Regions from separate parts of the Homo sapiens genome. Here region 1 is linked to region 2. Evidence: fine-mapped expression QTL. A gene starts in region 2. The other region holds a variant in brackets. All regions are shown on one strand. Distances are from middle to middle.

Region 1 (4,387 bases), 35 kb after region 2:
CCAAGAAACGTTAAGTGATGAAATTAAAAGGCACGTGTAGACTTTCTGTCATAATCGCTAATAGGGACTGTGAAATAGAACTCCCAGTTCTTGTCATGTCCATTGCAGTGATTATAATAAGGTATTTGGGCTTTCATAGTGATGAAATAAGTGGTTGTGGGTTTGTATACGTATGTATACATAAATATGTATGCGTATGAGCCCAGAAGAAATGGAAACGAGACCAATGATTTAATTTGCATGAAAATTAGAACTGTCTGCCAAGAGCAAACATCTCTCTCACCCTTTTTCAAGAGAAAAAAAGGTCTTGTAGTTTGGCATGACTCAGTGGATGACCTCACACTGATTCTCCTTTAGTTATTGCTTGAATGCGTGGAGCCCTCAGTCCTAAGTGAGGCGGTCTGGGTGATGTTATGGCATTTCATTTGGGAAAGCGGCTGTCACTTCATCCTTAAGCCTCCTGTTTGCTGTGATGGTGGCAGAGCCACTCTCAGCACCACAGGAAGAGCCCCGGGGAATTCCTGAAGACACATTCTAGAGAATCCGGTACAAGTGTATGTAGGTTGGTCACCTTGATGCCTTATTTTCTCAGGCTTCTAGTAGAGATGCATGCCAGCAAAATGGAAAGGAACAGAGGGCGTTCTTGAAGTTTCCTAACTGGCGTATTTTCTCCTTCTCTTTTTCTAATAATTAAGTACAGGGGACTGAGAAGGCAGGGGTTGTTGTTATTTTTACATGGAATGGACCTAACCTAGCAGTCAGATGAGATTGTTGACGCGTAGCACAGTCTGTTATCTTTGGGCATCTGCCACCAAAGAGAGTGTACCCAAGAAGGGCTGTCGTGTGAGTGGGATGGGTTTCCATCTTTTGTTCTGTGCTCTTTCTGTGGAATCTCAGGCCTGCGTGTGCTCCCTCTGACCGTACCTTGACTCTTGATGAAGGATTTGCAGCCCTGAGAGGGAGCAGGCAGACCCAAATTAATTATTTCCATTTTTTTTGTGGCACTGTGGGACAATGGGAGAGAATACAGGCTTTGGAGCCAGCCAAATGTGTTTCAGATCCTAAATCCTCCACCTAAGGTATGCAGTCCTGATGGGTAAGTTATTTTAATTTGTTTGAACTGCCACTTAACTGAAAATGGGATTAATACCAGATATCACTTAAAATTAGTAAAAAATACAGTTGACCCTTGAACAATGCAGGCATTGGGGGCACCGACCCCCCATTCAGTTGAACATCTAACTTTTGACTTTGCAGAATTTAACTACTAATAGCCTACTGTTGACTGGAAGTCTTACTGATAGCATTAACAGTCAATAGCACATATTTTGTACATTATAGATATTAGATACTATATTCTTACAATATAGTAAACTAGAGCAAAGAAAATGTTACTGAGAAAACCGTAAGGAAGAGGAAATATATTTACTGTTCCTTAAATGGAAGTAAATCATCGGTGAAGGTCTTCATCCTTGTCATGTTAAAATTGAGTAGACTGAGGAGGAGGAAGAAGAGGAGGGGTTGGTCTTGCTGTCTCAGGCATGGTAGGGGTGGAAGAAAACTGTCATATAAGTAGACCAGCACAGTTCACACCCGTGTTGTTAAACGATCAACTGTATTTTATTAAGCTGTCTTTGAATAGCACCAAGTATCTTAGTGTATGAGAAGGCCTCTGAGAAGTTCCACAGTTAGGAAACATGGTGAACTTTTTTTTTTGGTGTGAGGGGCACAGAGTCTTGCTCTGTCACCCAGGCTAGAGTGCAGTGGTGTGATCTTGGCTCACTACAACTTCCACCTCCTGGGTTCAAGTGATTCTCCTGCCTCAGCCTCCCAGGTGGCTGGGACTACAGGCGTGTGCCACTACACCCATGTAATTTTTGTAGAGACGGGGTTTCGCCATGTTGGCCAGGCTGGTCTCGAACTCCTGACCTCAAGTGATCCTTGCATCTCAGCCTCCCAAAGTTTTGGGATTACAGGCATGAGCCATCACTACCAGCCGTGGTGAGCTTTGTTTAACCAAGCATTTTTCAAACTTATTGACTGAAGAATCTTTATGTGTGTGTGTATGTGTGTGCATATGTAAGAAGTAACATCCGCTGGAGCTGGTATTGTGCAGAAAATATGTTGAGAAATATAAAACAGATATCTGGCTTGTGTTCCTCTATATAGTCTTTTTTGACTGAGAATGCTTTATCCTTGTTGTTACGGATATTTTCACTTTGTTTATTTCTATTTTGGTCTGAATCATGAGTGTAGTTGATCCTTGAACAACATAGATTTGAACTGCTTGGGTCCACCTCGACGCCACCTGTGCATACGGAGGGCTGGCTCATCTCATATGCAGGTCCCGAGGGCCAACTTCAGGACTTTATGCATAGATTTTGGTGTGCTGGGGATGGGGGCCCTAGAACC[C/A]AACCCCCCATATATATACCGAGGGAGGACTGTCTATTTTTGTTTTTTACCTGTGAGGCCATCGCCACAATGAAGAGAGTATCCCCCAAAAGGCATATTTTTAATATAGTTGTAATTATAGCATTGCATAATCGTTTTCAGTAACATAGGTCTCATCTGTTGCTCTAGGTCTTAGTAAAATAAATCACTCTTGTTGAACCCTTCCTAGGCTCCAAAACTGGATGGGCCATTTAATATAATTTTAAATATTAAATTTAAATTTTCTTTCATTTATTAGAATTTTCAAAGGGTAATAATGTTATATATTTAGATTTTGATGACATGGAGACATCTGAGACTTGCTTAGTTTTAAAAAAGCAAAATTTATGTCATACAGCTCTTGTAAGGACTGAATAAAATAATGCATATAAAAATGCCTAAGACAATGCTTGGCATGTAGTGGGCACTTACTAAACAATTTCCTTCCTTCCCTTGCTGGCTTCTTAACTACTCCCTGCCTTGTATACCCCCTGTGCTCCGTCCCAATTTCTGTTCAGATACTAGACAGATGGCTGTTGCTTTGGGATAGGTCAAAGGCTGTCAGGCGTGGAGGCAGGCAAATGACCCAGATCAGTGAACACCAGTCATTGTCTCAGAGCATTTTGTTTTGTTCAGCTCAGCTATTTGAATCATCTTGGATTTTCTCATTTGTTTAGAAAAAGGTTTCCCCAAAATTGGTGGTGTTGGGTTCCTGATAGCAAAATGTATCAACAAGTGGGCAGTCAGCATATGGAATTTGCCCAACTCTACAGGGAAACTTGCTTTAGGTATTTTAAAAGTTAACTTGTCAATGTCACTGTAGGACAGTTATATATCTACTGAGTTTACAAACAAAAGATTTTTTTTTGTTTTTTTTTTGAGACGGAGTCTTGCTCTGTTGCCCAGGCTAGAGTGCCTTGGTGCGATCTTGGCTCACTGCAACCTCTGCCTCCCGGGTTCAAGCGATTCTCCTGCCTTAGCCTCCTGAGTAGCTGAGACTACAGGCACCCGCCACCATGCCTGGCTAATTTTTATATATTTTTTGGTAGAGACGGGGTTTCACAATATTGGCCAGGCTGGTCTCGAGCTCCTGACCTTGTGATCCACCTGCCTGGGACTCCCAAAGTGCTGGGATTACAGGCGTTAGACACCGCGCCGGGCCTGAACTCATTTTTAATTAGAATTCTTATTATTTCAGTGGCTGAATGGAGGAAAAAAGAAAGGACCTAAGCCCAGAAAATTCACAGGTTTGTTTCAGGGTAGAAAAATTTGGCATATTTTGGCCTGGAAGATATCTCATTATGGAATCAGAAATCTGAAAGGGATATTAAATTAGGAGCAAACTTGTGCTGTGTTGGTTAACCACTGAAAGTTGCATTGGCAGTTTAGTAACTAAACAATAGGGCCACACGCGGAATTTATTGATGTCTCATGAACTTTCTGTTTAAATCTTTATTGCTTTGAATTGATAGGCTTCTTTTTTCCCTTCCACTTTGCTTAAGGGACTGAATCTGTTTTTGGCATTCTAAGACTCTTTTTAGAATTTGGCAGTGCCTCTCTAGGATGTTTTCTTCTGCACTGCCTCCAAAACAAAATTATGAACAGCCTGGCTCTTTCGGTATCTCTCCTCTTTTTTTTTTTTTTTTTTTTTTTTTTTTCACTTTCCTGATGTGAAAGTGTCAGGTTTTGAGCCAGTTTGAAAGATGAGAACTAGAATATATTTCTCTTTCTGATCTAGAGAATCCTAGTGGCTTCTAGGGCAGTGTATAAACAAAGCCCTGTGGCTGCAAGGTTTCCCGTGTGCAGCAATAAACTGATACATGCCGGTGACAGGAATCTGGCTCATGGGCTTGAAACCATCCATTAACTCATTAATTGACCAGACATCATGGGGGTCTGCTGAGTGCCATGGGGATGCTCTGTGCTGGGAAAGATGCAAAGATGAATAGGCTAGGAA
Region 2 (4,321 bases):
CTTATGCCTATAATCCCAGCTACTCAGGAGGCTCAGGCAAAAAGACTGCTTGAGCCCAGGAGTTCGAGTCCAGCATGGGCAACAAAGCAAGACCCCCATCTCCAGAAAAAAAAAAAAAAAAGAAAGAAAGAAAAGAAAGGAAAATATAATTTTCTTCAGAGAAAAAGTCTCACTCTGTCACCCAGGCTGGAGTGCAGTGGTGTGATCTTGGCTGACTGCAACCTCCGCCTTCTGGTTTCGAGCAACTCTCGTGCCTCAGCCTCCTGAGTAGCTGGGGACTAAAGGTGCGCACCACTATGCCTGGCTAATTTTTGTATTTTTAGTAGAGATGGGGTTTTGACATGTTGGCCAGGCTGGTCTTGAGCTCCTAACCTCAACTGATCCACCACCTCGGCCTCCCAAAGTGCTGAGATTACAGGCATGAGATGCCATGTCCGGCCATTTTTCTTTTTTAAAATAATTTTTTAAATGAAAATATTATTAAATAAATGAACACCATGAATTTGCATGTCATCTTTGTGCAGGGCCATGCTAATCCTCTCTGTATTTTTCCAATTTTAGTATATGTGCTGCTGAAGCAAGCACAATTTTCATTTTTTTCAATTGATTTCAGCTTCTGCAGGAGGAAGTATAATTTTCTGATGGCTTCTAAAGAGGAACAGTTAGCAGTTATTGAGATATAATCATGTAAGGTGGTGTAGGATGGTGATGCCTACTCCAGTCTCCTTACCCAGGCTGAGTTCATATTTTTGTTAGAAGAAGCTGCAGGATGGAGAATTTGGGGTCTGGCTCAAGAACAGTGTGAGTACAGGTGATGATCACAGGGGAATACATTCCACACGGGGAGTTAGCAGTCCTGCCTCTACTCTACTTTGATGGCTGATTGAGAAGTCACTTACTTTGAGCCCATTTCCTCCTCTGTGGGGGAAAAAAAGGGTCAGCCTAGATAACTCAGAATATTTGTTGTAAAATTGACTGTCTCTGGGAGGGAGTGTGGGTGGGGCTACCCTGAGCCATCTGAACTCTCGGAAGTCCTTCAGAGTGAACACAGATCAGCTCTTGCTGTTCACTTACTCACATTTCATCTGTGGTGTCAGAGCCTCAGGGACCCAGCAGAACTGGGGAACATCCTCCAGTTACAGCATGTACTACCTGCAGCCTGATAACCATCACTGGGGTGGATTTCCAGCCTCAGATGTTCAGGTGCTCTTTTTGGAAACACACACTTCTCACGTTACTGCACCAAATATGGGTCCCCAAATGACAGCCATAGCGCATGTCGGGGAGAGCTGCAGTGGGTCAAGTGATGCCTTTAACCAACTGAACGCAGTTTTCGGTCCCTGAAAACTATTTGCTTCCTTATCAATCAACCTGAAGGGAATGATGGAGGTGACACTGGGAGTCTTGGTAGGTTTCCAGACTTTCATAAGTTCGGGAGAAATTATTGACTTAGCATAGATGTGAGCTCAAAGAAACATTTCCTAACAGCAATAAAAATAAGCATTAGAGTTGAACAATGGACTGTGACTGTTTCCCAAAATAGCTGTTTTCTTGAGTCCGCAGAACAACAGGTACTGTATTAATGGGGATACAGTATTTGTTTCACAGCGTTGTTGTGAAGATAAACGGGATACCCCAGATAAACAGCTTGTGTCCCCCCCATCTTAACAACCCTCCTTTAGGCTGGCGGGCCACCTGCTCAAAAGCCTTCCCCAGGGGGGTTAAAACCGTCTTTTAGTAGTTCTGGTACGGGTGGGCTGGGGGAGATCCTCTAAAGCCAGTGCGACCTTGACCCCAGCCAATGTCCAGGCTCTTGACACATCCAGAGAATGAGTTCAAGGACAACTCAGAAAATAGTGACAATATGCAGATTTATTGCAAAGGGAAAAGTACACACCCAGGAAAAGGGATTGTGGAGAGGGTCACTCACAACGGGGCTTGGGGCTGCTACCTTTATGGGTTTCTTTAACCAAGGGGTGAAATATTCATGAAAATTCCTGGAAAAGTGTGGAGATTTTTCGGGACTGTGGTGCCACCCATTTTTACTTCAAATATGGGTGTCCCCGGAATTGTCATGGCACTGGTGTGACTTAGGATGTTAAAGAGCGTATAATGGAGGCCTAGGAGAAACCTAGGTCAAATCCAGGACCACGTCGGGTCCAGCCGGTCTTAGCCAGCTTGGTACACACCCTGGTTTTCAGGGTCTTATCAGCCCATAGCCTCCAGTCAAGTGAAACTGCTGCCTGGTATTTTTTATTCTCCTCTGACCAGCCTGCATTACTCCTGTCCCATGTTCAACACGAAATAGGGCCTCAGGAAATATTTACCAAATGAATGAATGGTTGCCTGTTCTAATTTTGTTTAACCACACTCTTGTCCTAAGCTTCTATGATGATACCCAGGGCCCCCGAGTTGTGCCAGTTCCACTACGGCGTGGATGCAAGGCGAGCGGCAGGGGAGCAGGTAAAGGATGAGTAAGGGAAGCCGGCGGATCCGACGCATTAGAGAACAAGAAAAAGAAATCCTTAGAGACTGGGGGCCAACAAAGAGCCAGGCGCGGGCGAACCCACCAGGGGGGCCCCGGAGCCCCACATCCGCCGCTGGGACGACCTCCCCGCCCAGCATGGTCCGGGGCGCGGACCCGGCCCCGCGCCAGGCGCCCCCGGCCCCGCACCCGGCGCCCTCCGCAGCTCCCGCCCCCGGGGCGGTGCCGGGAAAACGCGGCGCCTCCGCCGGTCACGTGGGGGCCGCTCCGGCGGGCGGCGCTGCCGCTTCCCAATCGCGCCCTCCCAGCGCCGGGGACGCGGCGCCCGCGCTCCCGCCCGAGCCCGGGGAAACGGAGACAAGGAGGCGCCGCCGCCCCCTCCCCGCGGCTGCGCCCCAGCCCTGCGCCCGCAGCATGCCCGCCGCCGGGCCGAGCGCCGCCCTCCCCCAGGAGCTCGAGGAGGCGACGCCGCTGCCGGCCGCGGGACCGCGGCTGCGAGGGTAGCGGGGCCGGAGCCGGGCCCCCCGAGGCGCCGCGCGGCGGGCGGAGAGGGAGGAGGAGCAGGCATCCTCCGCGGCGCGCGGGCGGCGGCCCTGCTGCCCGGCGCGCCCATGGCCCGGCCGCAGGGAGAATGCAAGCTGCTCTCCACGCGCTCGGCGTCCCCCGGAGCCGCTCGCGTCGCCGCCGCCCCCTAGCCGCCAGCGCTCGGCCGCTGGCTGCGCTAGGACCCGCGGCCGCCGGCCGCCGAGCGCGGGAGGGCAGGCAGGGGCAGGAGCCGGAGGGCCCGGGGCGCGGCGCGGCATGTAGCTGCGGGCTCCCGCGTCCGCGTGAGGCTGTCGGCCCGGGGCCCCGCCATGGCTGGGATGGACAGTGGCAACCTGAAGACCGCGAGGCTGTGGCGGGACGCCGCCCTGCGTGCCAGGAAGCTGCGGAGCAACCTGCGCCAGCTCACGCTTACCGCCGCCGGGGCCTGCCCCGGGGCCGGGGCCGACGCGCTCGAGTCCCCCGCCTCCCCCCAGCTCGTGCTGCCGGCCAACCTCGGGGACATTGAGGCACTGAACCTGGGGAACAACGGCCTGGAGGAGGTACCCGAGGGGCTGGGGTCGGCGCTGGGCAGCCTGCGCGTCCTGGTCCTGCGCAGGAACCGCTTCGCCCGGCTGCCCCCGGCGGTGGCCGAGCTCGGCCACCACCTCACCGAGCTGGACGTGAGCCACAACCGGCTGACCGCCCTGGGCGCGGAGGTGGTGAGTGCTCTGAGGGAGCTGCGGAAGCTCAACCTCAGCCACAACCAGCTGCCCGCCCTGCCCGCCCAGCTGGGCGCTCTCGCTCACCTGGAGGAGCTGGATGTCAGCTTTAACCGGCTGGCGCACCTGCCTGACTCCCTCTCCTGCCTCTCCCGCCTGCGCACCCTGGACGTGGATCACAACCAGCTCACTGCCTTCCCCCGGCAGCTGCTGCAGCTGGTGGCCCTGGAGGAGCTGGACGTGTCCAGCAACCGGCTGCGGGGCCTGCCTGAGGATATCAGTGCCCTGCGTGCCCTCAAGATCCTCTGGCTGAGTGGGGCCGAGCTTGGCACGCTGCCCGCCGGCTTCTGCGAGCTGGCCAGTTTGGAGAGCCTCATGCTAGACAACAACGGGCTGCAGGCTCTGCCCGCCCAGTTCAGCTGCCTGCAGCGGCTCAAAATGCTCAACCTCTCCTCCAACCTCTTCGAGGAGTTCCCTGCCGCGCTGCTGCCCCTGGCTGGTCTGGAGGAGCTCTACCTTAGTCGCAACCAGCTCACCTCGGTGCCATCCCTTATCTCGGGCCTGGGCCGGCTTCTCACCTTGTGGCTGGATA

What was found. PIP is the estimated chance that this variant, and not a neighbour inherited with it, causes the effect.
Region 1: its variant is fine-mapped to the expression of MFHAS1 in whole blood (INTERVAL, PIP above 0.99).

The regions. Positions count from the first base shown.
Region 1 is chr8:8,856,682-8,861,068 of GRCh38, reverse strand. The region is part of intron 1 of MFHAS1 (multifunctional ROCO family signaling regulator 1); the gene reads left to right. Among named protein-coding and RNA genes, the nearest start is that of MFHAS1, 35 kb to the left of the region's middle. RefSeq lists an enhancer at 434-643. The variant C/A (reference allele first, on the strand shown) is at 2,413.
Region 2 is chr8:8,892,077-8,896,397 of GRCh38, reverse strand. It overlaps MFHAS1 (multifunctional ROCO family signaling regulator 1), which reads left to right and starts at 2,768. Exons shown (of 3, transcript NM_004225.3): 1 at 2,768-4,321. The coding sequence starts at 3,340. It also overlaps the pseudogene RNU6-682P. RefSeq lists silencers at 2,623-2,872, 2,883-3,162, 3,273-3,542 and an enhancer at 3,387-4,321.